Regions from separate parts of the Homo sapiens genome. Here region 2 is linked to region 1. The links come from fine-mapping of genetic effects on gene expression. A gene starts in region 1. The other region holds a variant in brackets. All regions are shown on one strand. Distances are between the middles of the regions.

Region 1 (15,110 bases):
CGCCGTGGCTCATGCCTGTAATCCCAGCATTTTGGGAGGCCGAGGCGGCTGTATCACCTGTGGTCAGAAGTTCAAAACCAGCCTGGCCAGCATGGTGAAACCCCCTCTCTACCAAAAATACAAAAAATTAGCCAGGCATGGTGGCGGGCGCCTGTAATACTAGGTACTCGGGAGGCTGAGGCAGGAGAATCACTTGAACCTGGGAGGCGGAGGTTGCAGTGAGCCAGTTGCAGCGAGCTGAGATCACACCATTGCACTCCAGCCTGGGCAGCAAGAGGGAAACTCCATCTAAAAAAAAAAAAAAGCCCAAATGAAGCCCAGGTGAGGTTTGGAATTGTGAATCTATACTGGGTCAAACCAGCGTGACCTTGGGACTTTCTCCAGCAATATCCTGCAGTGTGGGAGGGGAGAAACAGGGCAATAGGAGCCAGCTGGGGCTGGGAAAACACGGGCAGTAGAAAACCAGTGAAGGGAAGAAATCCTTGGCATTTATGAGCAAATTTCAAAATGGCTGAGCATGAGATCTAGGCCAGGAGGAAATATGAGTGAAATGAAAAGAGTGCTGATAATTGGAGAGAAAAGTGTAGATGAATGACTTAGAGACAACATGAAATGTTCAGTGGTAGAGAAAAAGCAGAATATTTCCAGTTCTAGGTGCTTCAGGAGCCACAGCTTAAGGTGCAGACATGGCCAAGTCCAAGAACCACAGCACAAACAACCAGTCCCGAAAAAGGCACAGAAATGGTATCAAGAAACCCCGATCACGAAGATATGAATCTCTTAAGGGGATGGACCCCAAGTTCCCGAGGAACATGTGCTTTGCCAAGAAGCAAAACAAGAAGGTCCTAAAGAAGATGCAGGCCAACAGTGACAAGGCCATGAGTGCACGTGCTGAGGTTATCAAGGCCCTCGTAAAGCCCAAGGAGGTTAAGCTCAAGATCCCAAAGGGTGTCAGCTGCAAGCTCGATCGACTTGCCTACATTGCCCACCCCAAGCTTGGGAAGCGGGCTCGTGCCCGCATTGCCAAGGGGCTCAGGCTGTGCTGGCCAAAGGCCAAGGCCAAGGATCAAACCAAGGCCCAGGCTGCAGCTCCAGCTTCAGTTCCAGCTCAGGCTCCCAAAGGTGCCCAGGCCCCTACAAAGGCTTCAGAGTAGGTATCTCTGTCTGCCAACGTGAGTACAGAAGGATTGGTGCGATACCCCCCGGGCTGCCATCTGCACGGGGCTGGGGTCCTCAAATAAACCTGAGGTAGGAAAAATAAAAAGAAAAGAAAAAGAATAAGTTGGGTCAGAGGGAATTTCACAGAATGAGATTTAGAAGTCAAGCCACTTTAAATAATGATAGAATCTAATGTGTGGGTTTGATTATATTACCTCTTAAACCCCTTTCAACTCTAAAACTCTATGAGAAATATGAATGAGTGAATACTGCACTTACATCCAAATTTCCAAGTGGCTGACAGTGTGACCCCAATCTATCCTTGTTACATATGAAGTCCCATCAAGTCCAAGTCCATGGGGATAGACTTGGACTATTTTAGGAATTTCTGCATGTGCTCAATGATAAGGATAATCAATCACTATTGGACCTATATGTCTTTCAAAAAAAAATTTTGTTTTTTTTGAGACAGGATCTCACTCTATCACCCAGGCTGGAGTGCAGTGGTGACATCATAGCTCACTGCGGCCTCAAACTCCTGGGCTCAACCAATTCTCCGGCCTCAGCCTCCTAAATAGCTGGGACTACAGACATGAGCTACATGCCCAGCTAATTTTTAAATTTTTTGTAGAGACGGGGGTTCTTACTATGTTGACCAAGCTGGTCTTGAACTCCTGGCCTCGGGGGATCCTCCTGCCTCAGCCTCCCAAAGTACTAAGAATGGCTGGGTGTGGTGGTTCATATCCGTAATCCCACCACCTTGGGAGGCCAAGGTGGTTGGATCCCTTAAGCCCAGGAGTTTGAGACCAGCCTGAGCAACACGGACTCCACCTCTACAAAAATTACAAAAATTAGCTGGGCATGATGGCACATGTCTGTAGTCCCAGCTACTCAGGAGTCTGAGGGAGGAGGATTGCTTGAGCCCAGGAGGTTGAGGTTGCAGTGAGCCATGGTGGTGCCACTGCACTCTAGCCTGGGACAGAGCGAGACTCTGTCTCTAAATAAATAAATAAATAAAACAAAGTGCTGGAATTACAGGCATGAGCCACCATGCCCAGCAAAACTTTTAATATAAATTCTACTGTCACCAGTATTTGATAGTAGACTGTGGAAGTTAGGTAAGATCAGAGTCTGTGTCACATAAAAGCAAATGTATGGCTAAGAAGGAAAAAAAAACCTTTGCTTCACACGTATCCATGTAATAGAGGTTTATCCTCACTTCCCCCTTTCCCCTCCCTCAGTCAATTTGCAATAATAATAATTTAAAAAAGGTAAAGTGGTGATGTCGTGGAACAAATTACTTTGCTTGAAAGACACAACTGCAGGTTGGTGTTTACGGGAGGACTCAGACTTGGCATGGTATTGTGAGGCAAAGAGGACGCTTGTTAGGAACTTGTGATCATTATTGAACCAGGCAGGGGAACCTGGGCCCCTGAACTCTGTCTCTTTATACTGCATTTTGAAAGCAGCACTTGGCTCTCTAATTGCCCCATATGCTGGTTTTATTCGGTGGCTCAGCTGGGTGGAGTGAACTCTGGGAAGAGATGCATTCATTTTTAGTTACCTCACCAGATTGCTAATTTTCACTCTGGAGGCATAAATCACCATAATTACTGTAATCCCAAGACGAAGGGACTTGCTATTCTGGCACAAGGGCAGCAGCTATTTGTACCGCCAAAGCTGTTCTACCTGAGAGCTGGGGAAAGAGTTGCATATGGCTGGTTCTGCCAGGACACTCTTAGATTTGGGGTGGAGGGTGTGCTCGGAGCCCATTATCCTTTACTTGGGAGAAATGGAGATCCTGGAGGAGCAGTTTCTTCTGTGTTAGTGGCAAGCCTGTGGCTTAAGACAGAGCTTTGGCCCTCGGCTCACTGCACAGCCCACACTGCCCAGCTGTTGACATGTTTGACTTGCAAACAGAACATCAACAGAACTTCAGAACTTCAGTTCCTCTTCTCTCATCTTTTCCCATCAACTCATTCCTTGGTTTGTCTTGGTTTTTGTTTTTGCATTTCTCCTGAGGAAATCCTTATTAATTTCTGAAGAAATTACCTCAAATAGAAACCAGATACTACAAAAATCCCTAGTACCCTGGAGCAGAGGCTAAATATCATTAGGGAGGGGGAAAACAGAAAAAGCCCAGTGTAACTTGTCACTTTGTCATTCATACTTATAATATGGATTAAAATTGTTTTCTTGTTCTTTATTATTTTTAATAGAGATGGAGCCTTGCTTTATTGTCGAGGCTGGTCTCCAACTCCTGGCCCCAAGCAATCCTCCCACTTTGGCCTCCCAAAGTGCTGGGATTGCAGGTGTGAGCCACCATGCCTGGCCATTTTTTTTTTTTTTTTTTTTGAGACAGAGTCTCATTCTGTCGCCCAGGCTGGAGTGCAATGGCACGATCTCGGCTCACTGCAAACTCCACCTCTCAGGTTCCAGCGATTCTCCTACCTCAGCCTCCCGAGTAGCTGGGATTCCAGGCGCCCACCATCATGCCTGGCTAATTTTGGTATTTTTAAAGTAGAGACTTGGTTTCACCATGTTGGCCAGGTTGGTCTCGAACTCCTGACCTCAGGTGATCTGCCTGCCCTGGCCTCCTAAAGTGCTGGGATTATAGGGGTGAGCCACCGTGCCCAGCCCAGTGTTTTTCTTTTTAAATAAAATCAACCTAAACTAAGTCTAAAAAATACCAACTAGATCCTGAATCAAGGTCGCTTAAAAGATGAGTAACTGGCGCAGTGGCTCATGGCTGTAATCCCAGCACTTTGGGAGTCTGAGGCGGGCAGATCACGAGGTCAGGAGATCGAGACCATCCTGGCTAACACGGGAAACCCCGTCTCTACTAAAAATACAAAAAGTTAGCTGGGCGTGGTGGCAGGCGCCTGTAGTCCCAGCTACTCAGGAGGCTGAGGCAGGAGAATGGTGTGAACCCGGGATGCAGAGCTTGCAGTGAGCCGAGATTGTGCCACTGCACTCTAGCCTGGGCAACAGAGCAAGACACCATCTCAAAAAAAAAAAAAAAAAAAAAAAAAAAAAAGAAAAGAAAAAAGAAAAAAAGAAAAAAGATGAAAAACTGATAAATAAATATGAAAAAATTCCTTGCCATTTCCACAGAAGGTGGAGAGGCCGAGATGGGGGAATACCATTTTCTTGACAAGTTCATATCATAATGGTGTCTGGGTGCCTGGCTTTGTGTTTGTTTTTGCCTGACATTTTGAAGAGTCTTAAAATGCAAGAGAAATGGGAAACTTGACTATACCAAAAAAAAAATCTGCTTAGGAAGAACATTTTTTTTTTTTTTTTTTTGCCTAATACTATAAAGCCTTGGAGAATTTAGAATCTAAAGCATCTGTTATTGCTGATGGCAGGTTGATGGCCTAAAAAGAGAGGGAACTGTAGGTCAGGAATGTTTTGCGCAAAAATGAGGCTGCGCTTGGGTATTAGAAAATAAGGCAAACAAATAACAGATTGCAACAGGATAAACTGCCCTGTGAAGTAGACTTGCCCTCCAACCCCAATCTGCCTGCCCTCAGATGACGGTAAACAGACCAGCTTTTTTTTTTTTTTTTCTGTCTTCCAATCACCTGCCCTCATGTTTAGGCAGCAGAGATCTAAGTTATAAACACAGCTCTGCCAGGAGACCCCTTGGCTGAGAATGGCATTCAGAGTATTCTAGTTCTTCCTTGATGTTTTTCCACTTTCAGACCTCCTATCCTTTTTAGAACCTGCCACAGTGCCTGGTCACAAGGTTGAAGTTTAATACAAATTTAATAAGTTGGTCCAAATTTGGAGATGAATTCTGGGGAAAAGTCAAACAGTGAAAAATAAGGAATTTTACTTTCTCTGGGGGCTCCCAGGCTCTCTGGTTGGGTCAGGGCCCAAGTGGAGCAGGGAAGAAGGGGCCACTCTTTCTGAAGTCTCCCTGCATGAATGACAGTAACAGTTGAGTGGTAGTCATATGCTTAGAAGCAAACCATTCTGATTTTGCCTCCTAGAGCAGAGATGTCTCCCCTAAGATCCATTTTACCCCAGCAGAAAAGGCCAGGGTTGTCTGGGTTGTGGCAACACTGTTTTGACAGAAAGCCCTATGATTTTTCTCACAAACTTCCCTAAGGATGCTGTCTTTCAGCTACACGTACTTAGATAATTTCTTCTCCCTTACCAACTCAACCTGATGTTGCTAAGAGGTTCAGTACTTTCTCTCTGCTTTCTACCTCATCCCAACCCCCAAGTTCTTTCCCAAATTCCAGCAGCTGGGACCAGTCTCTGGGACAGAGCAGAAATAACATGGAAATCGGGGGTAGGGTTAAACACATCTATAAGTCTAGGAACAGGCAGAAAAGTAACATCCCTGTTACTACAAGTTTGGTATCAGGAAATAATTTCTTATCCATCATGAGTGGTGATATGGGTAGTATGAGCATAAGTTATATGTAGAGGTAAATTATTTACTGGGCTATTAAAGGGCCACATGGAGGCTGTCCAAGGAAAGTCATACAATAATAATGGAAATTTATTATTATTATTTTATTTTTTGAAACAGAGTATCACTGTCGCCCAGGCTAGAGTACATTGGCGTGATCTTGGCTCACTGCAACCTCCGCCTCCTGGGTTCAAGCAATTCTCCTGACTCAGCCTCCCGAATAGCTGGGACTACAAGTGTATGCCACCACGCCCGACTAATTTTTGTAGTTTTAGTAGAGTCGGGGTTTCACCATGTTGGCCGGGCTGGTCTCGAACTCCTGACCTCAGGCGATCTGCCTGCTTCAGCCTCCCAAAGTGCTGGGATTACAGGTGTGAGCCACTGCACCCGACCTAATAATGAAAATTAATTATATCTGATATTATGTTGAAAAATATTCTATCCAGAGGACAGTTCGGAAACATTTACTTTTGCACTGCGTTCGATTCACGGTCTCTTATGGGGAGGAAGAGTAGGAGGATTCCATGTGCATCTGTGTTTGGGCTGTCAAGTTATCTGTATCTACATAACTATTTGTTTTCCTTTGGCTTCAAAGAAATTTTTGGTGTTGCAAGAAATATGTATATTGCAGAAAAACTGTCACTTCTTAAAATGTGCAGTTAATGGCATATCTAAATAAAATGTAATGTTTTGCTGTTAATATTTACTATTGATATATATGTTCAATAATTCCCAAACAATTCTAACATTTAGTATTTATTAATTCTAGTATTTATTGCTACTACTGCTGCTACATGTTATGGTTCCATAGCCCCTATTCTGACAGAGCTTTGAAAACAAAACAAACTCCCTATCTGTTCCTCCTTCCGGTTAAATATTGGAGGAAAGCAGAATAGTAATATTAATTTTTAAAGAGAAAGAAGCACAGAGAATGAACATCAGATAGAATAAGCCCTTGAAATCGTAACTCCAAGCTGGCAAATTGAGCACATTGGATCAAGTGCAGAGTTTTCCATTCTATTCATGGGGAGAAAGAGGAAGCGAAATGGGGAGGGGTAGGAAGAACTCAGAGGGTTTAGTAGTGATTCCTTAGGAACCTGGAAACCTGGAGCTTCTGGAGACAGTGAGAACAATGGCTGGGTTTTTCTCTGCCTGTCATTTTTCAGTCCATGATGAGATGTTGAAGAAACAGAGTCCAAAGGTACACCAGTGTAAAAATGTTGCCAAAGTGAAAAGTGGGAGACTGATTTCCTCCTTCCGATTGATTGGAGAGCCATTCACTTTAGGGTGCTTCTGTTTCCTTACTCATCACACAGAGCACTGGAGTGTGGGAAAAATCCCCATCCCACATTAAGGTTGCCACAAAGGTAAAAAAGACCTGAAGCAGAAGTTGGGAGACCTGAGCTTATGACCTTGGACTTACAGCACAGCTGATATTTGGGGGAATAAGGTTTGTTGTTGTTTTTGTGTGTGTGTTTTGTTTGTTTGAGACGGAGTCTCACTCTGTCGCACAGGCTAGAGTGCAGTGGCGAGATCTCAGCTCACTGCAACATCCACCTCCCAGGTTCAAGCAATTCTCCCGCCTCAGCCTCCCTAGTAGCTGGGACTACAGGCACATACCATCACGCCCAGCTAATTTTTGTATTTTTAGTACAGACGAGGTTTCACCATGTTGGCCAGAGTGGTCTTGAACTCCTGACCTCAAGTGATCCGCCCGTCTCGGCCTCCCAAAGTGCTGGGATTACAGGGGTGAGCCACAGTGCCCAGCCCCTGGGGGAATAAGTTCTGAGAGGACACAGGAAAACTGGGGATTGAAAAGCAGGTTTTCACAAGAGTGGAGGCAGCTGGCTCTGTGGGTTCCCAGACTAAGGGGATCTGTGCTTGACAGACCAGAGGCCAGTTCTGTGACCATCATCTCAGCCTTGAATTTTTTTTTTTTTTTTTTTGAGACAAAGTCTCACTCTGTCGCCCATGCTGGAGTGTAGTGGTGTGAACTCAGGTCACTCCAACCTCTGCCTCCTGGGTTCAAGCGATTCTTGTGCCTCAGCCTCCCGAGTAGCTGGGACTACAGGCGCCCACCACCACCACGCCCGGCTAAGTTTTCTATTTTTAGTAGAGATGGAGTTTCGCCACGTTGGCCAGGCTGGTCTGGAACTCCTGACCTCAAGTGATCCACCAGCCTCGGCCTCCCAAAGTGCTGGCATTACAGGCGTGAGCCACTGCACCCGGCCTAGCCTTGTGATATTAACAGTAACTGTCATTTGCGGTGTGCCTACTCTGTGTCACACTCCTTGCAGTTATTCCATTTAGGGTAGAGCAACATTATTCTAGTTTACAGATGAGAAAACTAAGGCCCCAGAGATTGATTTGCCCAAGCAGCCAGCTGGCAGTGGAAGTGCCAGTTTCTTCGTGTGTAAAACAAGAGAAGGCAATCTACTGCCTACTGGCTTGTCAAGGGTCACTTGAGATCGGACGACAGGAACCACAAAGAAGTGAGGCCGGGAATTTGCGGATCCACAGTAAAGCAAGTTTGTCTTTTTCCAGACGTGCATTAAGATTCCTTTTTCAAGTGTTCTAAAGCGCAGGCGCAGGCTGTTTTGCGGTTGCCTCCCGGCGCCTCTTGTGCAGGCCGGGGTCGCCCTCTGCCGACCCAGGGCGGGAGCGCGCTGAGTGAACGTTTCCAGGCCTGAGGGCGGGCGGAGATTTTTCTCGCCTGTAGAGGGCGCAGATCGGCGTGCAGAGTAACCCACTCTAGTTGTCCCTTCCTTAAGCACTTCCTGTTTGATCTCTATGATCCATCCTGTTGGGACTTGATTCGTTCCTCAAATTTTCAATTTACCGTAAACAAAGGGGACGCGCGCTGACCCGGAAGTGAAAGCTGGAACCCGGCCGGAGTAGCTCTGAGCGCCGGCTGTGAGGAAGGAGGTTCTGGGCAAGCTATAGCCATGGCTGTGGCTGTAGCCATGGCGGGAGCCTTAATCGGGTCGGAGCCAGGCCCCGCGGAAGAACTTGCCAAACTCGAGTACCTGTCTTTGGTGTCAAAGGTTTGCACTGAGCTGGACAATCACTTGGGGATCAACGACAAGGACCTTGGTGAGCTCGGGGAGGTCCCTGGGACCTCAGTTTGGGATTGAGGGAAGCGGAAGGAGGAAGGAGGAAGGAGAAAGGTGGTTGATGGACCGAAAGTATGTTCGTGTGAATCTGTCTCTCTCTGTCGCAGACACCGGTGCCCAGGGTACACGCTGCCGTGGCCTCGGCTTGAGAGCCCTCGAGAAACTTTAGAAACTTTCCCAGAGCTGTCAGTGAAGCCCGGGGCGGTCATCTCTGCTTGATTGTTTTTTGTTTGTTTTTTCAGCCTCAATTAAACATGTTTAACAACAACAGCAGCAGATGCTGCGATGACGACGATGATGGCTGACGTTTATTGGGTGCTCACTATGTGCTAGATGCGATGCTCAGCTCTTTATTGACATTATTTTATTTGGTCTTCACGCCACTCTGTGACATAGTAGTTAGCGTCTGTGCTTTTAACTGTGTTCTTTGACCGTTCATCCTGTACTCTTTTTTGAGGCAGGGCCTCGCTCTGTTTCCCGGGCTGGAGTGCAGTGGCACGATCTCGGCTCACTGCAGCCTCCACCTCCTGGGCTCAAGCAGTCCTCCCACCTCAGCCTCCCGAGTAGCTGGGACTACAGGCGGGCGCCACCAAGCTCGACTCATTTTTAAATTTTTTGTAGAGACGGGGGTCTCACTGTATTGCCCAGGCTGGTCTCGAACTTCTGGGCTCAAGCAGTCCTCTTCCCTCGGCCTCCCAAAGTGTTGGGATTACAGGCGTGAGCCATTGCGTCCTGTACTATGTCTTAAACACCAGTCACTAGATGTTTTGGGGCAAACTACATCTGGGGAGCCGAAACTGAGGAATTAGAAAAGGCTAGGGTCCTAAAGCTAAAGCCATAGACAGATGGAGCCTTTATGAAGGTACAGAGGATGGATGGGATCAAGGGCAACCAATGGATGGATTGACCTTTGGTACGTACAGCAAGGCTTCTTCAGTTGTAACAGGAGCGAGGACAGAGAATACAGTTGCAGATTCAGATGAGTTTAGAGATTGGTGGTGGGAAGATGAGTGAGAGAGTTCCAGCCCACTCTTCAGTTTCCTAAATGAAGATAAAGTCATCAACCGGAGGGATGGAAGGGAAGGGGCAGGTGACAGGAGGGGTTAGGGAAGTTAGACGAGTGACCTTTGGTAAGATTCATAGTTTCTCTGAAGCTGTTTTTCTCATCTGTGAAGTGGGACGATGTCTTCACAGGGTCACCATATAGCATTTAGGAAGATGCCCTGCAGCCAGTATATTTTAGTTTACTTTTTTCTCTTGCCTCCCAGCCAAGATGTGTCTGTCCTATATAACTTTTCCCGCAGGATTCTTCTCTTTTAGTTGATAATGAGGTGATAATTTCGTCGGTTTTGCTATCTCGTTAATATGTTTCCTTTATTCAGCAAATATTGAGCTGGGGGCTAGGCATACCACAGAGAACAAGACAGATTTCTGCTTTCAGGGAGCTTACCTTTCTCTCTGTTTTCATTTTAACTCCTAATACCTTGGCCTTTTAGAAGAAACAAAAAAGTTATTGACATTAACCCCCAGTGTTTAATTGTTTTGATGTTAACTTCATTTGTGTACAAAAATAGAGCGAAGTATAAACTTCATAATCTTTTAGTTTATTTATAGCTAAAGATCTCAATTAATTTGCAGAAAACCCACAAATATGCTTTTTCTGTTACATACAGAATTATAAAACCAGTAACATTAAAAGTACTAACATTGGCTGGGTTTGGTGGCTCACGCCTGTAATCCCAGCACTTTGGAAGGCCAAGACAGGCCGATCCCCTGAGGTCAGGAGTTTGAGACCAGCCTGGCCAACATGGCGAAACGCCATTTCTACTAAAAAAAAAAAATACAAAAATTAGCTGGCCATGGTGACTGGTGCTATGCAGGAGGCTGAGGCAGGAGAATCGCTTGAACTCAGGAGACGGAGGTTTCAGTGAGCTGAAATCACATCACTGCACTCCAGCCTGGACGAAAAGAGCAAGACTTTATTTCAAAAAAAAAAAAAAAAAGTACTAATATTGGTTTAATGCAATAGACAGTGTCTTTTGTTGAAACTAAATTGGCAGAGTTGGGTTTAATAACAGAAAGGCATATATTTGCTTCTTTTATGTTTTGTTTGCTGACTTGATTCTTTTGCTTTTGACCCTGATGGATGACTTATTAATTTATGTATTTAATTTTTGGGAGAGTTGAGATAGTAGAGTTTCCGATGAAAACTGGAAAACCTGCTAGACAAATTCTAAAAGAACTGTAATACTGGATTATCATTTAAATTAGTGTTATTTTTACTGTTTTCACCAATGAATTTTTTTAAACTATAAATTAATTTTTTATAATGGATTCAGTTAATTTAACAATTCCCCTGTATAATTGTGAAAATTAAAAATACTGATTAATGGGACCAGGCGCAGTGGCTCACACATGTAATCCCAGCACTTTGGGAGGCCAAGGCGGGTGGATCACGAGGTCAGGAGTTCGAGACCAGCCTGACCAACATGGTGAAACCCTGTCTTACTAAAAATACAAAAATTAGCAGGGCGTGGTGGTGCACGCCTGTAATCCTAGCTACTCAGGAGGCTGAGGCAGGAGAATCACTTGAACCTGGGATGGGGAGGTTGCAGTGAGAGGATCGTGCCACTGCCCTCCAGCCTTAGTGACAGAGCAAGACTCCGTCTCAAAAAAAAAAAAAAAAAAGATTACTGATGGCTGGCAGTGAGAATGTGCTTCAGACTGCTTTGGGAGGGGCTCTTTTGAGCATGACATGCCTAGCACCATGGGACTTAGTTCTCCCTCCACATTTCTTGAAAGAATGTAGCCTCTGAAGTTAGATTGCCTGGGTTTTATTCCTAGCTCCCCCCAGTTATTATTGGGTAGGTCAGTGTCTCAAACCGTCAGCTTCCTCATTGTAAAACATGACAATAATAGCACCTACTTATGAGGGTTGTTTTGGGGATCATGAAGTAACCCATAAAAAGCACTTAGCATAGTGCCTGGCACGTAGTAATGTTCAAAAAGTATTAACCATTGACATTATCGTTACTAACTTATTATGCATAAGATGTGTTCGTGTAGCCTGATGGCATTTGGCTTTCACTTTATCAGAAAGATAAAGGCACATTCCAGGATGGAAATTGTATGGTAGTACTACTTTATGAGTTAGTCATCTAGATCTTTCATGTTATTTATTCATTTACTTTTCTAGGATTAGCATTCAAATGAAAGCATTACAGTTTTTTTGTGGGTCTCATAGTATGAGGCTTATTATCTCAGTCTACTCCCGAGTAGCTAGGACTACAGATGCATACCACCACCCCCGGCTGATTTTTGTATTTTTTGTAGAGATGGTGTTTTGCCATGTTGCCCAGGCTGGTCTTTAACTCCTGGGCTCGAGCAATCTGCCCACCACAACCTCCCAAAGTGCTGGCATTACAGGCGTGAGCCACTGTCTGAAAGTAGCTTAATAAATAGCTCTAATATTAGAAGTTTCAAGAACTAGGCCGGGCACAGTGGCTCATGCCTGTAATCCCAGCACTTCGGGAGGCTGAGGCAGTAGGATTACCTGAGGTCAGGAGTTCAAGACCAGCCTGGCCAATGTGGCAAAACCCCGTCTCTACTAAAACTACAAAAATTAGCCAGGCGTGGTGGAGGGCACCTGTAATCCCAGCTACTTAGGAGGCTGAGACAAGAGAATTGCTTGAACCCGAGAGGCGGAGGTTGCAATGAGCCAAGATCGTACCACTGTACTCCAGCCTGAGAGACAGAGTGAGACTGTTAAAAAAAAATGAAAAAATAAAAAAAGTCCAGGTGCGGTGGCTCATGACTGTAATCCCAGAACTTTGGGAGGCCGAGGCAGGCAAATCACAAGGTCGTGGGTTCGAGACCAGCCTGGCCAATATGGTGAAATCCTGTCTGTACTAAAAATATAAAAATTAGCCGGTCATGGTGGCATGCGCCTGTAGCCCCAGCTACTTGGGAGGCTGAGGCAGAAGAATCGCTTAAACTCAGGGGGCAGAGGTGGCAGTGAGCCAAGATCCCGCCACTGCACTCCAGCCTGGGCGACAGAGCGAGACTCCGTCTCAAAAAAAAGAAAAAAAAAAGAAAAAAAGAAAGTTTCAAGAACTAGGCAGGTGTGCCGGGCACAGTGGCTTATGCCTGTAATCCCAGCACTTTGGGAAGCTGAGGCGGGTGGATCACAAGGTCAGGAGATCAAGACCATCCTGGCTAACATGGTGAAACCCTGTCTCTGCTAAAAATACAAAAAATTAGCCAGGCGTGGTGGTGGGCGCCTGTAGTCCCAGCTACTCGGGAGGCTGAGGCAGGAGAATGGCGTGAACCCGGGAGGTGGAGGTTGCAGTGAGCCGATATCGCACCGCTGCACTCCAGCCTGGGCGACAGAGCCAGACTCTGTCTTAAAAAAAAAAAAAAGAAGAACTAGGCAGGTTTGTGGAGAAAAATTTGGCAAAAAAGTCTTTCATCAATGTGGAGATTGCACCACCCAGCAGCTGCCTGGCCCTCATATACAGATTGGGTCTGTCCTTCTGTTGTGTGCCTCTGTGTGTCTACATGGGCTCATGCTTTTTATTGTCACCTTTACAGTCTAGTCTAGGTGGCAGCGTGCCCAGGTAGTGGTTTTGTGAGAAGAGGGTACCATGATGTGGGTCAAATAGGTCTTCCTAGTTTAAATGCACTCAAGGGCTACATTGAGCCATTTTGTAGTAATATCTTCCTTTCATTTGTATAAATTCTCTAGAATATGTGTGGATAATTTCAGCAGTCTAGATTTTCTCTCTTGTTTTCTTGTTTTGTTTTTTTTGTTTTTTTTTGAGACGGAGTCTCACTCTGTTGCCCAGGCTGGAGTGCAGTGGCGCAATGCCGGCTTACTGCAACCTCTGCCTCCCGGGTTCAAGTGATTCTCCTGCCTCAGTCTCCCAAGTAGCTGGGATTACAGGTGCCTGCCACCACACCCAGCTAATTTTTGTATTTTTAATAGAGACGGGGTTTCACTGTGTTAGCCAGGCTCATCTTGAACTCCTAACCTCAAGTGATCCGCCTGCCTTGGCCTCCCAGAGTGTTGGGATTACAGGCATGAGCCACCACACCTGGCCAGATTTTCTCTCTTTACCCTTACCAGATGGTGGTCTTTGTTTTTTATTACTGTTGGATAACCTAATTAGTTTTGTTTTCACCATACTTGAAACTGATTTCTTGTTCATGTCTCTTCTTTTCTGAATTCTGTTTCTTATTTGCAGCTGAATTTGTGATCAGTCTTGCTGAGAAAAATACCACCTTTGATACTTTTAAGGCTTCTCTCGTCAAAAATGGTGCAGAATTTACGGTATGTATATGTGGAGAAGATAATCTGTAGATATTAATGTTTTAATTTATGTTTGTTTGTTTGTTTTTTTTTTTGAGACAGAGTTTTGCTCTGTCGCCTGGGCTGGAGTGCAGTGGCGCCACCTCAGCTCACTGCAAGCTCCGCCTCCCGGGTTCACGCCATTCTCTTGCCTCAGTCTCCCAAGTAGCTGGGACTACAGGTGCCTGCCACCATGCCCGGCTAATTTTTTGTATTTTTAGTAGAGATGGGGTTTCACCGTGTTAGCCAGGATGGTCTCGATCTCCTGACCTCGTGATCCACCCGCCTCGGCCTTCCAAAGTGCTGGGATTACATAATTTATGTTTTAATGTCACTATTGATTTTAAATTTTGATAGGGTTTAATATAGGATTTTGATATAGGAAGGAGACAATTTTATACATATCAATTAAATAAGCCATTAAGTGTGTAATGTTTTCATGCCATTAAGTAGTGATGATTTAACCAGATTTTCTGTGATACCTCTAGGAAAACAGGGCAGGATTTTCATCATTAAGTCTTTGTAGGTATTTACATTCTTGTTCTGTGAGTCAGGAAGTTGGAAACAAGTTTTGGGGGTAGTTCTAAACCTTGGGAAATAAAATGGTTGCAGGGAGCCTAATAACTTTTCTCCCCAAAGAGTCCTAAATATCGGCTTTCTCTGAAGCTATTATACTAGGTTCATGCTACACCAGGTTGACACACTATGTTTCATGTATTCCAATTAGCTAAATTCAAGTGCGTAACCACCCTTCCCTACAGGACATTCTTTGCCTTTTAAGTGTATTTAAGCACTGATATGGGAGCTGACAATTTTCGTTCTATGTTTCTTTTCAAAGGATTCTCTTATTAGTAACTTGCTGCGTCTCATACAAACCATGCGGCCTCCAGCGAAGCCTTCCACTAGCAAAGGTAAGCAGAGCTTCCAGCTGAGCTTAGCTTCTAGAATGGTGTAGGTTTTGAACATCCTGTAAATTGCATTTGTTTTCCTCTCAGCAGTTGCTGAGCAAGTAAATGTTCCAGTAAGATTTTTCAAATGGGCTGGGCCTAGCGGCTCACTGCTGGAATCC
Region 2 (15,110 bases), 47 kb after region 1:
AGGAGGTGGAGGTTGCAGTGAGCCGAAATCACCCATTGCACTCCAGCCTGGGCAACAAGAGCGAAACTCCATCTCAAAAAAAAAAAAAAAAAAAAACCAACTACCTAGGGGCTAGGCATGGTGGCTCACGTCTGTAATCCCAGCACTTTGGGAGGCCGAGGCAGGTGGATCACCAGAGGTCAGGAATTCCAGGCCAACCTGACCAACATAGTGAAACCATGTCTCTACTAAAAATACAAAGTTAGCCAGGCGTGGTGGCAGGCACCTGTAATCCCAGCTACTTGGGAGGCTGAGACATGAGAATAGCTTGAACCCGGGAGGCAGAGGTTGCAGTGAGCTGAGATTGTGCCATTGTACTCCAGCCTGGGAGACAGAGTGAGACTCCGTCCCAAAAAAAAAAAAAAAAAGAAAGAAAAAAACAACTACCTAGTGATGTAGTTTAAAAAAAAAAACTTGTTTTAAAGTAGCATTTTTAAAAAATTGGACTCTATCTAGAACCCTAATATAAAACTGATTTAAAACCACCATGTTATCACAGTAGAAGGGTTAGAAATGTGGCTCCTTGCATGTTTGGCCTTCTCCATCCCTTGTGGCAGTGTGAGGCCCCTCTTCAGAGCCCTAGAATTCTGTGGAAACATTCTAATAAACATCCTCACATTTTATAGAGCAAGAAACAGATTAGAGAAGGGATGTGATTGGCTCCATGTCACTTAACTAGTTAGAGCCAGAGCCAGGACTAGAATACATTCTCCTGAGACCTTTCTTGTGGTTAGAGGTGTGCGGGTGCTTCAGTATTGGGGTGTGGCTGTCATAAACAGACTGCAGTCTTATAGGTGTCAGGCAGGAGAGGTAATAGTATAAAATGTAAGCTCAGCTGAGGCCTACTAGGGACCAGGTTGACTGTAGAGTGGGGCCTATATCCAGAGGCTTGAGTACTATCTCTGTCCCCCCTCAGGGTGGTGTACCATGAGCTGGTGCTCACCACCAAGGAATACATGCGTGAAGTTACCACCATCGACCCTCGGTGGCTTGTGGAGTTTGCCCCAGCCTTCTTCAAGGTCTCAGACCCAACTAAGCTAAGCAAACAGAAGAAGCAACAGCGTCTTGAACCCTTGTACAACCGCTATGAGGAACCCAATGCCTGGAGAATATCTCGAGCTTTCCGACGGCGCTGAAAGGCAAGATTGTTCCTTTGCCTCTCCAGCAGCAGTAGCCAGGGCTTGGACTTATCGATGACAGGCTGGTCCTGAGGATACAGCTGTCCCGTGACTGACTGTCTTAACTGAGCATTTTCTCAACTCGACTCTCATTTCTTCCCTGCTGGTAAAATAGAAACAGGGATTTAAACCTGGCTTTGGCAAGAGCCTGCAGCCTCCATCACCCCAAGTCCTTGGGCCCAGTTGGGAGCTCATATCTAACACAGAGACACATTGCATCAACTTCAAGAAAGGGACAATTTGTGCAGCTCCAGGATGGGAAGGTGGAGTGGGTGAGCATCTTGTGCAGGGACATGGTGAGTGCCCTGATGCCCCAGCTAGCAGGAGCTACTGTGCTCATCTAAAGTGTTTGCCCCACTTCCCACCCCGTCTCCAGCCCCTGTACTTTGGCTTGACCTCGTGGAAATATTTATTTTCTTAAGGAAACAAAAATGGTTTTCTGTGACTGTTTTCTTTTAGCCGAAAGGTTAGGATATTGGCCTGGGCTCAGGGTGAGGGAGATTTAGTATCTGTGCTCTGGCACACATGATGAGAATCCCCTGAATCCCCTGAAACCAGAACGCAGGGCCTCTTTGCGCTCGGAAACGACGTACAACCCAGACTTCCAGCCTTGTCTTTCAGCATCAGCACTAGCCGGGCCGTGCTGGGGGATCACCCGATGATCAACCATGTCCTCTCCACAGAGCACTTCAGTCTGGAGGCCTGAGTGGCTACAGATGGCACATATTAAATACAGAAGGTTTCCCCTTGCTCCCTCCACCTCCCACATTCGCAATGTGCAGCATGTCCCATTTCCTTTTGAAACATACTAAGTAACAACACAGCTTTTATTTTATTTTGTTTTTATTTTTTTCCCCTGAGGTCCTGGATGGACTTTAACAAAGGGATTTTATGGTCAAAACCTCCCTTTCCCCACTCCAAACAGAAAACAAACATAACACCTCTCCTCTCAGCTGGTTTGTGCTGCCAGTATCTGTGCTGCAGGGCTTGTTCTTAGTGGTTTTTTCCTAGCACTTGCTTGGAGAATAGCCACCTCCTTGTGCCCTCCTCACAGCTCCTGAGGAGGGTTTTTTTTTTTTCTTCCCATAGAGATGGGTTCCCACTGTGCTGCCCAGGCTGCTCTCCAATCCCTGGCGTCAAGCAATCCTCCTGCCTCTGCCTCCCAAAGCGCTGGGATTACAGTTGAGAGCCACTGTCCTCTGCACTGAGGAGGCTCCTTACCTGGCGGAACATCAGGCAGGTCTTGCCAGGCCAGGTTTCGGAACTTACGGAAAGCTGGTCTGGATGTAGTGCTTGTAGAGAAGCTTCTGAGAGATTGGGCACATCCTGTTACGTTGCTGCTTCTCCTGTCCTTATGTTATTAGTAAGTTCTGAAGTGATGTAAATGCTAGAACTACTGTAGAACTGTATGCCAGACACTAAGAGAGACTATGTAACATTCCAGGATATAAAGGAATGTATGTTGTCACTGGGCAGCAAACCACACCCTAAAGACAATTCAGAAAGAGTCCGAGGGAGAGGAATATAGGCCAGGCAATCTGCTGGCTGCAGATCCCTGCCCCTTCATTAAGCTGAGTGCCTCCTGATTCTGTCTGAGTATTCGCCTTTGTAAGCCCAGGCCAGTAATCAAGGGGCAGGGCATTGTTGTGTGTTAACCTTGAAGGCCTTCTGGGGAGAGACAGTACAGGGACCTCAAATGAAACCAAAGGGGAAACGGGGACTGGGCACCCACCTCCCCAATCTCGTTTTGTTTTTGTTTTTGTTAAGACAGGATCTTGCCATCTTGCCTAGGCTGGCATCAAACTCCTGAGCTCAAGTGATCTTCCTGCCTCAGCCTCCTGAGTAGCTGGGACTACAGGTGCATGCCACCACACCTGGCTCCCAGTCCTAATTCCAGCCTAAATTTTCCCCATTCAGAAACACTCCTGGATATAGTGGCCCAGCCTGTCCTGACTGAGTGCCCAGCACTGACAATGTTGACACCTGGGGAGGGAGGGTTGGGTTTCAAGCTGAGGTTGAAAAGGGATGTTGAATGGGCTAAGGATAAGAGACAGCAGGGTTCGTTATCTTTTCTGGCTCAGGTGGAGGAAAAAGAAGGATCCCCATTCTGTGGGTGTTCCTTGACCATCTCTCTACGCTAGAGCTGAGGTCACTTCTCTGCTATGACAACATAGCTGGGTTCTGACCTTTTGACCATCAGGAAAGCAATGTCAGCAGCTGAGCTGAGCCTGCTCTGAGGGAGAAGGGGGGGGTCCTGTCCAGATGCAGAAGGGGAGCTTGCCTGCTGCTCTCACACAATGGAGCCCTTGTTTCTCTTCCTTGAACCAGTATTTCCCAAGATTGAGTGACAGCCCAGGAGAGGATGTGGGTCTCATGCAGAGAGCTGGGATCTTCTTGGCCATTAAAGTATATTGTTCACCCCCACCCCGCGAGAACCAAGCTCAGGAGTTGCCTGCCTCTGCACACATGCTGAGTGTGCTGTTTGTGTATATGGCAGGACCGTCCCTATGGGGCATGTGTGAGCTCCGCAGCTGGGTCAGGCTCCTCGGTCCAGGTTTACTTCATCCCGCCTGGACGTGATTTGGCTTTGACTGTCTCTCCTGCAGCCCAAAGCACTTCCTCCCTGTGGTTGCTGTAGCTGTCTCATTGGAGCAGTGCCTCTCCAAGTTTGAGGATTTGAACAAAGAACTGGGACTGGTGACTTGTTAATGAACAGTTCAGAGGGCAGAGGGCCATCATCTCAGCTTGTGGAGACCTTTCTTTCCCTGGATGCTGCTTCTCAGCTAACTCCCTCTCTCTTCGTGTGTGTACTCGGCCTTCAGGGTTTCCACCGATTTTTACACCTTCTTCCCACCACGATAGCTTGGCTTTAATGTGGAATTAAATTATATATTTTTAAAACCTGTTTTTAAAATTTTGTTTCTTGCACTAAATTATGTCAGTACATTGATATTTTGTGTTTCTAGGAAGAAGTAATGTTGCCTTTTATTTGTGGGTAGTAGTCGAGGGGCATCCCTTCCTGCAAGGGATGGTCTCAGGTTGGTGCTGGGCCAACCTGAGACATGAACAGAGTTGGGCTGGCCCAACCTCAGCACAGCTGCAGTTTCTATTTAACAGGAGAGCACCGGTTTTTACCTGAGCATGTCTCCTGGGCAGCGGTTTACATAGCAGCTGGCTCTAGAACCACCCATTCTGCCCCTCCCACCTGTTGTCACATCTCAGTCATACGTCCTCCATAGGTGTCACCATGTTGTCCACTTTGCCATTTCTACCTACCCCCAAAAAACTCAGCCTCAGGACTCTGATCTCTCCCAAATTTGGGCAAGGAGAATCTAGGTGTTTCCCACTCCCCGGAAGATCTAATCTCCACTGGCCAGAATCCAGGGCCTGCTCTAGCCTCTCTCTGTACCATCTGGCCTGGGAGCCTTTCTCCTTTGCCCCATTCTCCAGACAAACACTTGTCCCCAACCCCAGCAAAAGTAGCAACCTAGAGCTGAGGTAGGAGGGAGGACATGCAATTGGGGTCTATGTGGGACAGCAGGGTCATGGGAACAACTGGGATCACAGAAACCAAAGACCAAAACCCTGTCTGAGGAAGTCCCAGGAGGGAGACCCTTGCCACTCAGTAGCCCACCTGACCCGCCCACAGGGGCAGGGAGACTGCTGCTGGAAGCAGGCCCAAAGTGCACAAGGGGCGCCTGTCCAGGTTATCAAGTACCCCCTGTCCATTATTTCTGGATCCTCACACAGTAATGCTGGGAAGGGGGAAGGGCAGGTATCATTAAGCCCATTTTTCAGAAGAGAAACAGTCAGGTGAACTGCCTTTTTTCAAATCTACATGAGGATTTAAGCGCCAGGGCCTGGCCCCAAACCAGTCAGCTCTGCTTCAAGACCAGAGCTCTTTCTACCCCCAGGTCTGTTCCCACATGGCAGCAAAGAGGACACAGGAGAACTAATGGGAGAAGTGGGGGCCTTTATTAAGGTCTGGCAGATGTGGTGGAGGTGGAAGTACAAACCCAGGCCTGGGCCTAGGAAAGGGCAGAAGAAAGGCAAAGGGTCCCTTGGAGCAGGAACCCATCCCTCTCTGCTTATACCCAGCACCCCTCATCCCAGGTTCCTTTCTTCAACCTCCGCCTGCCTCTGGGAACACAGAGCACCAAGAACTGACAAACCGGGACCCTCCAGGGCCACAGCGTGGGGCAGAGTCCAGGCTTCTGTCTCCCCGCAGTGGGAGATCTGGGGAGCTCAGTGAACCTCCTCACCCTCCTGCCAGTATGAAGTTGGGAAGCGCCTTCTCTGTCCCCCAGAACAGAACAAACTCTTGTTCTCTGTGGTTGGGGAAAAGGTGTGGGGGGCTTGGACCTAGGAAGAAGCTGAGCTGAATTCCTCCAGGGCCCAGGTGAAACCCCCAGGGGAGTTTCTGAGACTCTAGACTTGCCATTTCTCCACTTTTCCTTCCCAATGACTCCGGTGAGCAGCTCAGAGTCTGGGCTAGGGCAACTGGTAGGACAGTGGGGATCTGCCCCAGAGACATCTGTGGGTTTCAGATGAAGGTTTCCCCAACACCAGATTCATTTATATGTACACAGGGCAGCACCCACCTGCGGCAGGGGGAACAGCCGCTGGGGGCTAGTAAGAGTAGCCACCCTTGGGGCCAAATGGCTGGGCGGGGCCAGCCAGCTCTGGGAGGTAGGCGGGGCTCTCATCCAAGTGGGACAAAGGGACTGTGTCCTCCTCACTGACAGGCCGGTCAAACTCAGCCTTGAGAGCTGGACGCTGATTGTCCGGGAAGGCCAAAGAGAAGAGGGCCTCGGGCTCACACACAAACTTGTACACGTAACGCTCACCAGCCACCTATGGGGAGAGAGAAGGTCTGGTCAGCCTGGCTAGCCGCCCAGCCTTTGTATGGGGTAAGGTGGGGGAGTGGGGAATGTGGCCCTTCTACCAGTACAGGCAGATGCTCGGGGCATTTCTCTCCCATGCTGGTTCCTGAGAAGCTGACTCTCCCTTCACAGTTCTTACTCCTTTTTCATCTCAACTTCTCCATGCTTGGGCTTCTCAGTTACAGTGTTGCACTTTTTTGGGGGAGGAGAACCTTGGGATTCTCCACAATTTCTTGTCTCTCTGACTGATTCATTATCTGATCCTACAAAGTTGCTGAGAACTGCCCTGCTGACCCTCTCCCCAGTCAGCTTCTCACAGCCACTGCCCCCCACCACCTTGTCCCTAGACCCACAGCCCCCACCTTCTGCATGATGCCTTTCTCATAATAGTATCGGAGCGAGCGGCTCAGCTTGTCGTAATTCATGGCTGGCCGGTTCTTCTGGATGCCCCAGAGCCTGGCGACCTGGGAACAAAACAGTTTTGGGGTAGAGATGCTACCTTGGCAGAGGAAAAAATGGGGGTAAGGTCAGAAAGAGCACTTGAGATTCTTGGTGCAAAGTGCCAAGCTA[G/A]CTCTGCAACAAAGCATCAGCCCACAGACTTAGGCTTGGCAAGAATTCAGGTTAGGTAAAGCAAGAATCATGATGGAGGCACGTGCCACCATTTCCCAGGTTCTCCCACCTCCAGGCTGTAAACTTTGGAAAGGAGGGCTGGGAACATCCGAGAGGCCCACCTCCTCAGGCTCAATGAGCTTGAACTCCATTCCCCGGCCCGTCCAGGCAATGAAATGGGCATTTGTTGGGTCATCCAGCAAGGCCACCAGAAATTGCCACAGCTGCAGGGCACCCCGGCGCTGGTAGGGCGGCCCCTCTCGAAATGCACCGACCCCTTCCTGCTTGATGTCTCCTGGGGAACACGAAAATAGGAGGTGTGGGGTTTGTGTCTTTTGGTCCCCCAAGCAACCGCCTCCCACCCGAGGGATTTCTCGAAGGGGTCTCCCCAGGTACTTTTCTATGGGTCCCACCCTCTTGCAACAATGAAACGTGATGTGACTCCTGCAGGGACACAGCGTGATAAGACCTTGACCCTCCCATCAACAGTCACTTCTCTGACCTTCAAATTTCTCAGGGACAACGCAGACATCATCTGGGAATGGTCGCAGAGGTTTCTCATAGCCATAGCCTTGTGGAGGAAATTGGGGGTTGCTCAGATCTGGGGGTTCACCGATGAGACCCCAGAGAGTCCAGAGGGACTCCTGGCCAGGGAGACCCTCCCCCATGGCAGCGCTCCCTCCCCCAACATGGAGGGCTTGGCAGGGGAAGGGGGGCTGCCTTACCCATGGCCCCGTCACCTGGAGAGGGCCCAGAGAAGCCCTCTGTGTGGAGGTACATTGATGCGCACCCGGTGACATCTGTGGGGGAAGAAGGGGTGATGTGAGAAGTGGCTTGGGGTGGAGCTCGAGGGCAGGGGAGGAGGAAGTCCTATCCACATTCAAGAATTTCTTCCTTCCAGCCTGCTTCCTGGTGACTGTTCTTTGCCCAGGTTGCCTGCCAACCACAAAATCCCAGGGAAAGTTCACCCAGAGGGAGTGTGATGCTGGAACCCCTCCTCAACTTGAGGGCTGCGGCTGAGGCCATGGAAGGCAGCAGCGGGGGCTGGGCAAGCTGTTCTGAAGGGCCCAAGCTGCCAGGGAGCAGCTGTTTCCTGCGAGTTCAGGGGGAGGAGGGAGGGTGAGATGAACGTCCGGGGAAAGAGTTCGGTGTCCACGCCTAAGACTCCCTCAGAATGGACAAAAATGTCCGGTCAGCAGGTCAGGTTCCCAGCCCTGTGCACGCGCGCGTGTGTGTGTGTGTGTGTGTGTGTGTGACAGAAACAGAGCGTGCGCCTGCATGCACCTGGGGAAGAGGCAGTGGGCACTGGGCCTTGTTTTTTCAGGTCTAACAGAGCACATTCCACTTCGTTTCATTCCATTCCATAGGATAGGAACCTTCCCACTCCACATCGGGAAGGCGGCTGTGTGAAGCCACCCGTTCAAGTTCCAACCCCTTCCCGCCCTCCCCCCACTGCACTCCCACCTATGAATGAGAAGATGGTGAAACATGACACCTCCGGGAGGAGGCGGGAGGGTGGGCTCATTCATGCCTCCATTTTGTGAATGGAATTCCTGACTCCATTCAGGAGTAGCTGGGGGGAGGGGCAGGAGTTCAAGGGCATGTAACACAATCCCCTCCGGTCTACAGCCTTTGAAGGTCAGCGGCAAGAGTGCCTCCCTCCTCCTCTCCCCAGCTCACTGCCAAGCCTGGCTCAGGCTTATGCCCTGGATTTGAGGACAGGAGCACCATCCGGTTCTTAGTTGGACAGCCTGGGGGGTTGTGGTTCATCCCCCTGCCCTTGAACGGTTGTGGGCACCACAAAAAGGGAAATTCTAAAGTTCTAGCTAGCTCTGGGCCTACTCTAATAAACTCAGATCTAGGGCTACTAATGTAACAAAAGCCAGGAGGAAAGAAGAAAAGGCAGGGTTTTCTGGACCCTTCCTGGGACTGGCCCTCCTTCGGCCCTTGAGGCTTTGAACTATAGCTATTTATGAACACAGGTGAGTGCATCTCACTCCAGTCAACAGCCAGGTGGAACTAGAATTTAAAGAAGTCCCTACTTCCTCTGCCCTTGCCTCTGGCCAGGGCATACATCAATTGGGAGGCTCAAATATGTAAGCCACATATTAACCTGTGCTTCTACCAGCTTGATCAACATGGTGAAACCCCGTCTCTACTAAAAATACAAAAACTAGCTGGGCATGGTGATGGGCACCTGTAACCCCAGCTATTCGGGAGGCTGAAGCATGAGAATCGCTTGAACCCAGTGGCACTCCAGCCTGGGCGAGAGAGCAAGACTCCATCTCAAAACAAACAAACAGAGCAAGACTCTGTCTCAAAACAAACAAAACAAAACAAAACAAGAAAACCCTGCCCTCCTATTGAGAACTAGCAAGAACCATGAGCCTGGCTAGTTTCAAATTCATGTTTCTCTTCATTCAAATCCCTTTGTATTTTTAAGCCTCTGTGGGGATAGGGACCAGACACATCCTATTCATCTTTGTATTTCCCAACTCTGCACACTCGTGTTCCTGTCACAGTAGTTTGGTCTTAATAGGTAATTAAAACCTCAAACACCTGTTAAATAGAAATAAATGCCTTAACTTCCCTATTAAGTCACAAGCTACCTGAGGGCAGGATCTACATCCCCCTTTATTTTAATTTTACTTTTTTATAAATAGACACGAGGTCTCACTTTGTTGCCTAAGCTGGCCTTGAACTAATTCCTGGGCTCAAACGATCCTCCTGCCATGGCCTCCTAAAGTGCTGGGATTACAGATGACTCACCATGCCCCGGGGGCCCCCCTTATCTTTTAATCTGAATATAGGTTTGCTCATTGAAAAGTAATAATTTGTCCGGGTGAGGTGGCTCATGTCTATAATCACAGCACTTTGGGAGGCCGAGGCGATGGATCATATGAAGTCAGGAGTTCGAGACCATCCTGGCCAGCATGGCGAAACCCCATCTCTACTAAAAATACAAAAATTAGCCGGGCACGGTGGCTGGTGCCTGTAATCCCAGGTACTCGGGAGGCTGAGGCACAAGAATCGCTTGAACCCGGTAGGCAGAGGTTGCAGTGAGCAGAGATCGTGCCACTGCACTCTAGCCTGGGCCAGAGCAGGACCCCATTTCAAAAAAAAAAAGAAAAAGAAAGAAAAATAACATTCTTTTGAAATTATGAAGAAAAAAAGTGGGTGGGTGGGTTGGATGTATGAAATGGTAAACAGCAATGTAAAAAAACTCGGGAGACATTCTGGGCTTAACTGAACACTTGATCACATGCCACCCTGCCCCACCCCAGTCTCTTACCTGAGTCGTAGGCGAAGTCCGTCTGTTCCTGTTTGATCACCACCCCCGCCCCTGGGTACCTGTGCCCATTGACCCCACCCTGGTCCACGGCTGGCTGGCCCGCCTGTTCATACAGGGGATCATGGTATTCTTGCTTAAAGCTCTGCTGGGGATAGGGTGGGCAGGGCTCCGACAGCTGGTGTTGGTAGGGGGCTGGGAGGGGTTCCCGGCCCCCTCCCTGAGATGTGAAGGAGTGGCAAATGTCCAGGGGCTGCTGGAAGACGGAGCTGGATGTGGTTGGATGGAGAAGGAAGAGAAGAGAACTTTAAATTAATCCTTCCTCGAGCCTGTTACTCCTAGGCTTTTAGAGTGGGCTCCGGAATGGGGGGTAGGGGGTTGGGGTGTCAGTATTTCTCCCTTTCTATTCCACTGCCCCCTGCCTCTACCACCCCACAGCTCAAGTCTTTATGGAGAACACTCAGGAATTGAAAAAACACCTGGGCCCATGAGCAGTGGGTTTCCCTGTCTCCTTACCTATGTTCCCCGAGGTACCCATGGCCAGGGTGGGGCTGGGAGGTGCCAGAGGATCTCAGGAAATTCCGTTGCTCTGCCCGGGGAAAGGGCTGTAGGGGCGACTGTCCAAGGGCACCAGGGGCAGGGGACTTGATGGCGATTTGTCTGGGGGGGTCATAGGCACTGGAGTTGAGAAGGAGACAGGGGTGAGGGGGCAGAGAAGCTGGAAAGCATCTTTGAACCCTTCATTCCTAGGAAAGCGAGGTCACAGGGATTACAGGAGAAGGAAGGATAGAGGGGGCTGAGAAGGGAACGGCAGGAGCCACAGACTCAGCCCTAGCCAATTCTTTTCTTTTTCAGAGACAGTCTCCCTCTGTTGCCCAGGCTAGTCTTGAACCCCTGGGATTCATACAGGGGGGATTTGTTGCTCAGAGCAATGGTTTAGGTGGGACAGTGGGCCTCTTGGTGGAAACAGAATCTGCTCTGGCCTCAGTATATATTCCTGAGGCCCTCTGCTGCGTTTTCCGTCTATTCAGAGGAAATCCTTAGCTGTATTGCTTCCTTACAAGTGCTAGAAAATCCTTTCTGTTGTCTAACTTGCATCTCAGCTGCTGCCTCTGCTCATGGGTGCCCCCTGCCTCCCTCCTCTGGAACCCTTCTCCTACCCTTCACCAGGTCCAGGCTGGGGCTCACCTGGAGTAAAGGCACTGCTCGCCATGGTGGTAGGGGAGTGGCGGCTTCCTGCTGCAGGACAGGGCCGGGTCTGTGCGGGGACTCTGGGGCTCCTTCTTGATCCTGGTGGTGGGGCTGTGGAAAGCTACTGTGGGGGTGGAGGGGACAGAGCAAGGCCAGAGCCTGTCACACAAGAGGCAGGCAGGGCTTCTGATACCTTCTGAGCTTTGAGGACCAGCTGGGTGACTGGTACAGCCTCCTTCCCTCTCTGGGTATCAATTTTCTGAGACCCGCAGTGAGACAAGAACATTTTGGCTATTTACATTATGTCTAGTTTATACATCAGACTAGTGTCTGATTATTGACTAAATAAACCATCTAAAGTTCAACATTTAGGCTGGGCACGGTAGCTCACACCTGTAATCCCAGCACTTTGGGAGGCAGGAGTCCAAGACCAGCCTGGCCAACATGGTGAAACCCTGTCTCTACTAAAAATACAAAAAAAAATTAGCCGGGGATGGTGGCGGATGCCTGTAGTCCCAGCTACTCAGGAGGCTGGGGCAAGGGAATTGCTTGAACCCAGGAGGCGGGGATTGCAGTGAGCCGAGATCATGCCACTGCACTCCAGCCTGGGTGACAGAGCGAGACTCCGTCTCAAAAAGAAACAAAAAACAAAAACATTTAATGCAACCCCAGGCCCCAGAAAACACTTTCAAGGAGTGAGCACCTCCAACCTAGGGCCTGTAGTTTTCCTGAGTGCCCTGGAAAATTCCAGGGGAGTGACATGTTTTCTTATTTGAGGATATAAAGAATCTTTCTTGGCCGGGCGCGGTGGCTCACGCCTGTAATCCCAGCACTTTGGGAGGCCGAGGCGGGCGGATCACCTGAAGTCAGAAGTTCAAGACCAGCCTGACCAACATAGAGAAACCCCATCTCTACTAAAATACAAAAAAATTAGCCGGGCGTGGTGGCACATCCCTTTAATCCCAGCTACTCGGGAGGCTGAGGCAGGAGAATTGCTTGAACCTGGGAGGCAGCGGTTGCAGTGAGCCGAGATCACACCATTGCACTCCAGCCTGGGCAACAAGAGTGAAACTCTGTCTCTAAATAAATAAATAAAAGAATCTTTCTTTTTCTGGTTGAGGTTGGATATTGGCCCACTTGAATGTCAGCTGACTAACATTATACACATGCTCCTACTTATCTGTGAAGAACACTGGCCTTTCCTGTGGCCCCTGCGGGGTTCCCAAACTCTGGCCACGAGGCTGAGCAGCAAAGAGTTGGTTCCAAGCCGGTGTGAGATTCAGTTTTAACCGCAGTCCAGTCAAATGCCGTTTGTAACCAACTATTCTCTGCTGTTTTTGATTCTTTGTGCCCCATTGTTTCACTGGTGAAGACAGTTGACAGCAAAGTATCTGACATTAAAGCAGGGTTTGTTTTTTGGTTTTTGTTTTTTTTGAGATGGAGCCTCGCTCTGTCACCCAGGCTGGAGTGCAGTGGCTCAATCTTGCCTCACTGCAACCTCCGCCTCCCAGGTTCAAGCGATTCTCATGCCTCAGCCTCCTGAGTAGCTGGGATTACAGGTACACGCCACCATGCCCGGCTAATTTTTGTATTTTAGTAAAGACGGAATTTCATCATGTTGGCCAGGTTGGTCTCAAACTCCTGACCTCATGTGATCCACGCGCCTCAGCCTCCCAAAGTGCTGGGATTACAGGCGTGAGCCACCACACCCAGCCTAAAGCAGGGTTTCTCAACAGTGGCACTACTGACCTGTGGGCCAGATAGTGTTTTATTAATAATATTGTAAGGAGCGGTCCTGAGCATCATAGGATGCTTTTAGCAGTATCCCTGGCCTCTCTATCCACTAGACACCAGTAGCACCCCACCCTCAACTGTGACAACCAAAAATGTCTACAGATATTACCAAATGTCTCTTGGGAGGCAAAATTGTCCCCAGTTTATGGAAGTGACTTAGAATACTAGAACTGGGGGCGGGCGCACTGGGCTCACGCCTGTAGTCCCAACACTATGGGAGGCCGAGGTGGGCGGATCACAAGGTCAGGAATTCGAGACCATCCTGGCCAACATGGTGAAACCCCATCTCTACTAAAAATACAAAAATTAGCTGGGTGTGGTTGTGCATGCCTGTAATCCCAGCTACTCTGGAAGCTGAGGCAGGAGAATGGCTTAAACCCGGGAGGCGGAAGTTGCAGTGAGCCGAGATTGTGCCACTGCACTCCAGCCTGGGTGACAGAGCAAGACTCTGTCTTGGGGGGAAAACAAACAAACAAACAAACAAACAACACTAGAACTGGACTCTGCTGAACTGGCCCAGGCCCCTCACTTCAGATATAAGGCAATGGAGAACCAGAGGGATAGTGTCTGCTCTAAGGTCACACAGCAAGAACATGTCAAGCCCCAGATTTCAACCAAGGTTTTCATTCCAGTTATTGCCTTGGTCTTTAAGATCAAACCCCACTGTGTTTTAGGAGAGAACAAGCTGCTCTCTTGTGATTCTCTATCCTATGACTCACTTCCTGCCATCCTCCACTCCCTATACCCTCTCCCCAGGGACCTCTACTCACGGTTTTCTGAATGGAAATCAGGAACAAACTGCTCATCACTGTCTGGTACCTGAGCTGCAGAGAGAAGTCAGAGGTGAGTTTGGGGCGGAGCCCTGGTTGTCCCCTGGGAGGCTCCATTATTACAGCCCTGCAGATTAGCAACAGCCAAGAAAGGACCAACAGCCTTTAGATCAGGGGTGTCCACATTGTAAGAATTGTCTTGGGCCACACATAAAATACACAAATACACTAACACTAACGATAGCTGATGAACTTAAAATCACAAACAAATCTCATAATGTTTTAAGAAATTTTACAAGGAATTTATGTTGGGCCTGGGCCGCATTCAAAGCTACCCTGGGCTGAAAGTGGCCCACAGGCCCACGGGTTGGACAAGCTTGCTTGAGACTAAAGGCTGCTCCACCCTAGGTCCTAGTGTCTTCCACCTCTGGGCTCCACTAAGACCCAGGAGGGAAGACTGTTCTCAGAACCTGTCTGAGCAGATTCCAGTCTTTCTTCTTCTAGATGCTTTGTCTTTATTTCCTCCATTTTTCTGAAGTGAAACAGCCTCGCCCCTCAGAGTTTACAAAACTCCCTTAAAGCTCACAACAGTCATATCTAGGATGGGCAGGCATTATAAGCAGTGGGATCCTGTGGATTTAAAAATCACATAGGAGGCGGCCAGGCATGGTGGCTCACGCCTATAATCCCAGCACTTTGGGAAGTCAAGGCGGGTGGATCACCTGAGGTCCGGAGTTCGAGACCAGCCTGGCCAACATGACGAAACCCCATCTTTACTAAAAGTACAAAACTTAGCTGGTCGTGTTGGCGGGAGCCTATAATCCCAGCTACTCAGGAGCTGAGACAGAAGAATCGCTTGAACCTGGGAGGCAGAGGTTGCAGTGAGCTGAGATCGCACCACTGCACTCCAGCCTGGGCAACAAGAGTGAAACTCCATCTCAAAAGAAAAATAAAATTAAATAATAAATAAAATCACATAGGGGGGTGGCTGGGCGCAGTGGTTCATGCCTGTAATCCCAGCACTTTGGGAGGCTGAGGTGGGAGGATCACTTGAGATCAGGAGTTTGAGACCAGCCTGGCCAACAAAGTGAAACTCCCATCTCTACTAAAAAATTAAAAAATTAGTCAGGCGTGGCGGTGGGCACCTGTAATCCCAGCTACTCGGAAGGCTGAGGCAGGAGAATTGCTTGAACCCAGGAGGCAGAGGTTGCAGTCAGCTGAGATCATGCCACTGCACTCCAGCCTGGGTGACAAAGTGAGACTCTGTTCCAAAAAATGAAAAATAAAGGCCGGGCATGGTGGCTCATGCCTGTAATCCCAGCACTTTGGGAGGCCGTGGTGGGCGGATCACGAGGTC

The links. PIP is the estimated chance that this variant, and not a neighbour inherited with it, causes the effect.
Region 2: its variant is fine-mapped to the expression of DHX8 in whole blood (TOPMed, PIP above 0.99). The same link has a PIP of 0.9 or more in blood mononuclear cells, lung and nasal epithelium.

The regions. Positions count from the first base shown.
Region 1 is chr17:43,475,512-43,490,621 of GRCh38, forward strand. It overlaps DHX8 (DEAH-box helicase 8), which reads left to right and starts at 8,464. Exons shown (of 23, transcript NM_004941.3): 1 at 8,464-8,674; 2 at 13,938-14,023; 3 at 14,880-14,952. The coding sequence starts at 8,527. LOC124904112 (U7 small nuclear RNA) reads right to left here and starts at 10,947; the gene lies at 10,887-10,947. It also overlaps the pseudogene RPL29P31. RefSeq lists enhancers at 8,157-8,999, 8,299-8,728.
Region 2 is chr17:43,522,673-43,537,782 of GRCh38, forward strand. It overlaps ETV4 (ETS variant transcription factor 4), which reads right to left. Exons shown (of 13, transcript NM_001079675.5): 5 at 13,754-13,807; 6 at 11,187-11,313; 7 at 10,515-10,676; 8 at 10,002-10,267; 9 at 7,435-7,509; 10 at 7,212-7,280; 11 at 6,832-7,004; 12 at 6,463-6,564; 13 at 5,174-6,071. The coding sequence ends at 5,847. It overlaps DHX8 (DEAH-box helicase 8), which reads left to right. Exons shown (of 23, transcript NM_004941.3): 23 at 956-2,998. The coding sequence ends at 1,175. Among named protein-coding and RNA genes, the nearest start is that of ETV4, 16 kb to the right of the region's middle. RefSeq lists a silencer at 3,169-3,463 and an enhancer at 5,923-6,464. The variant G/A (reference allele first, on the strand shown) is at 6,671.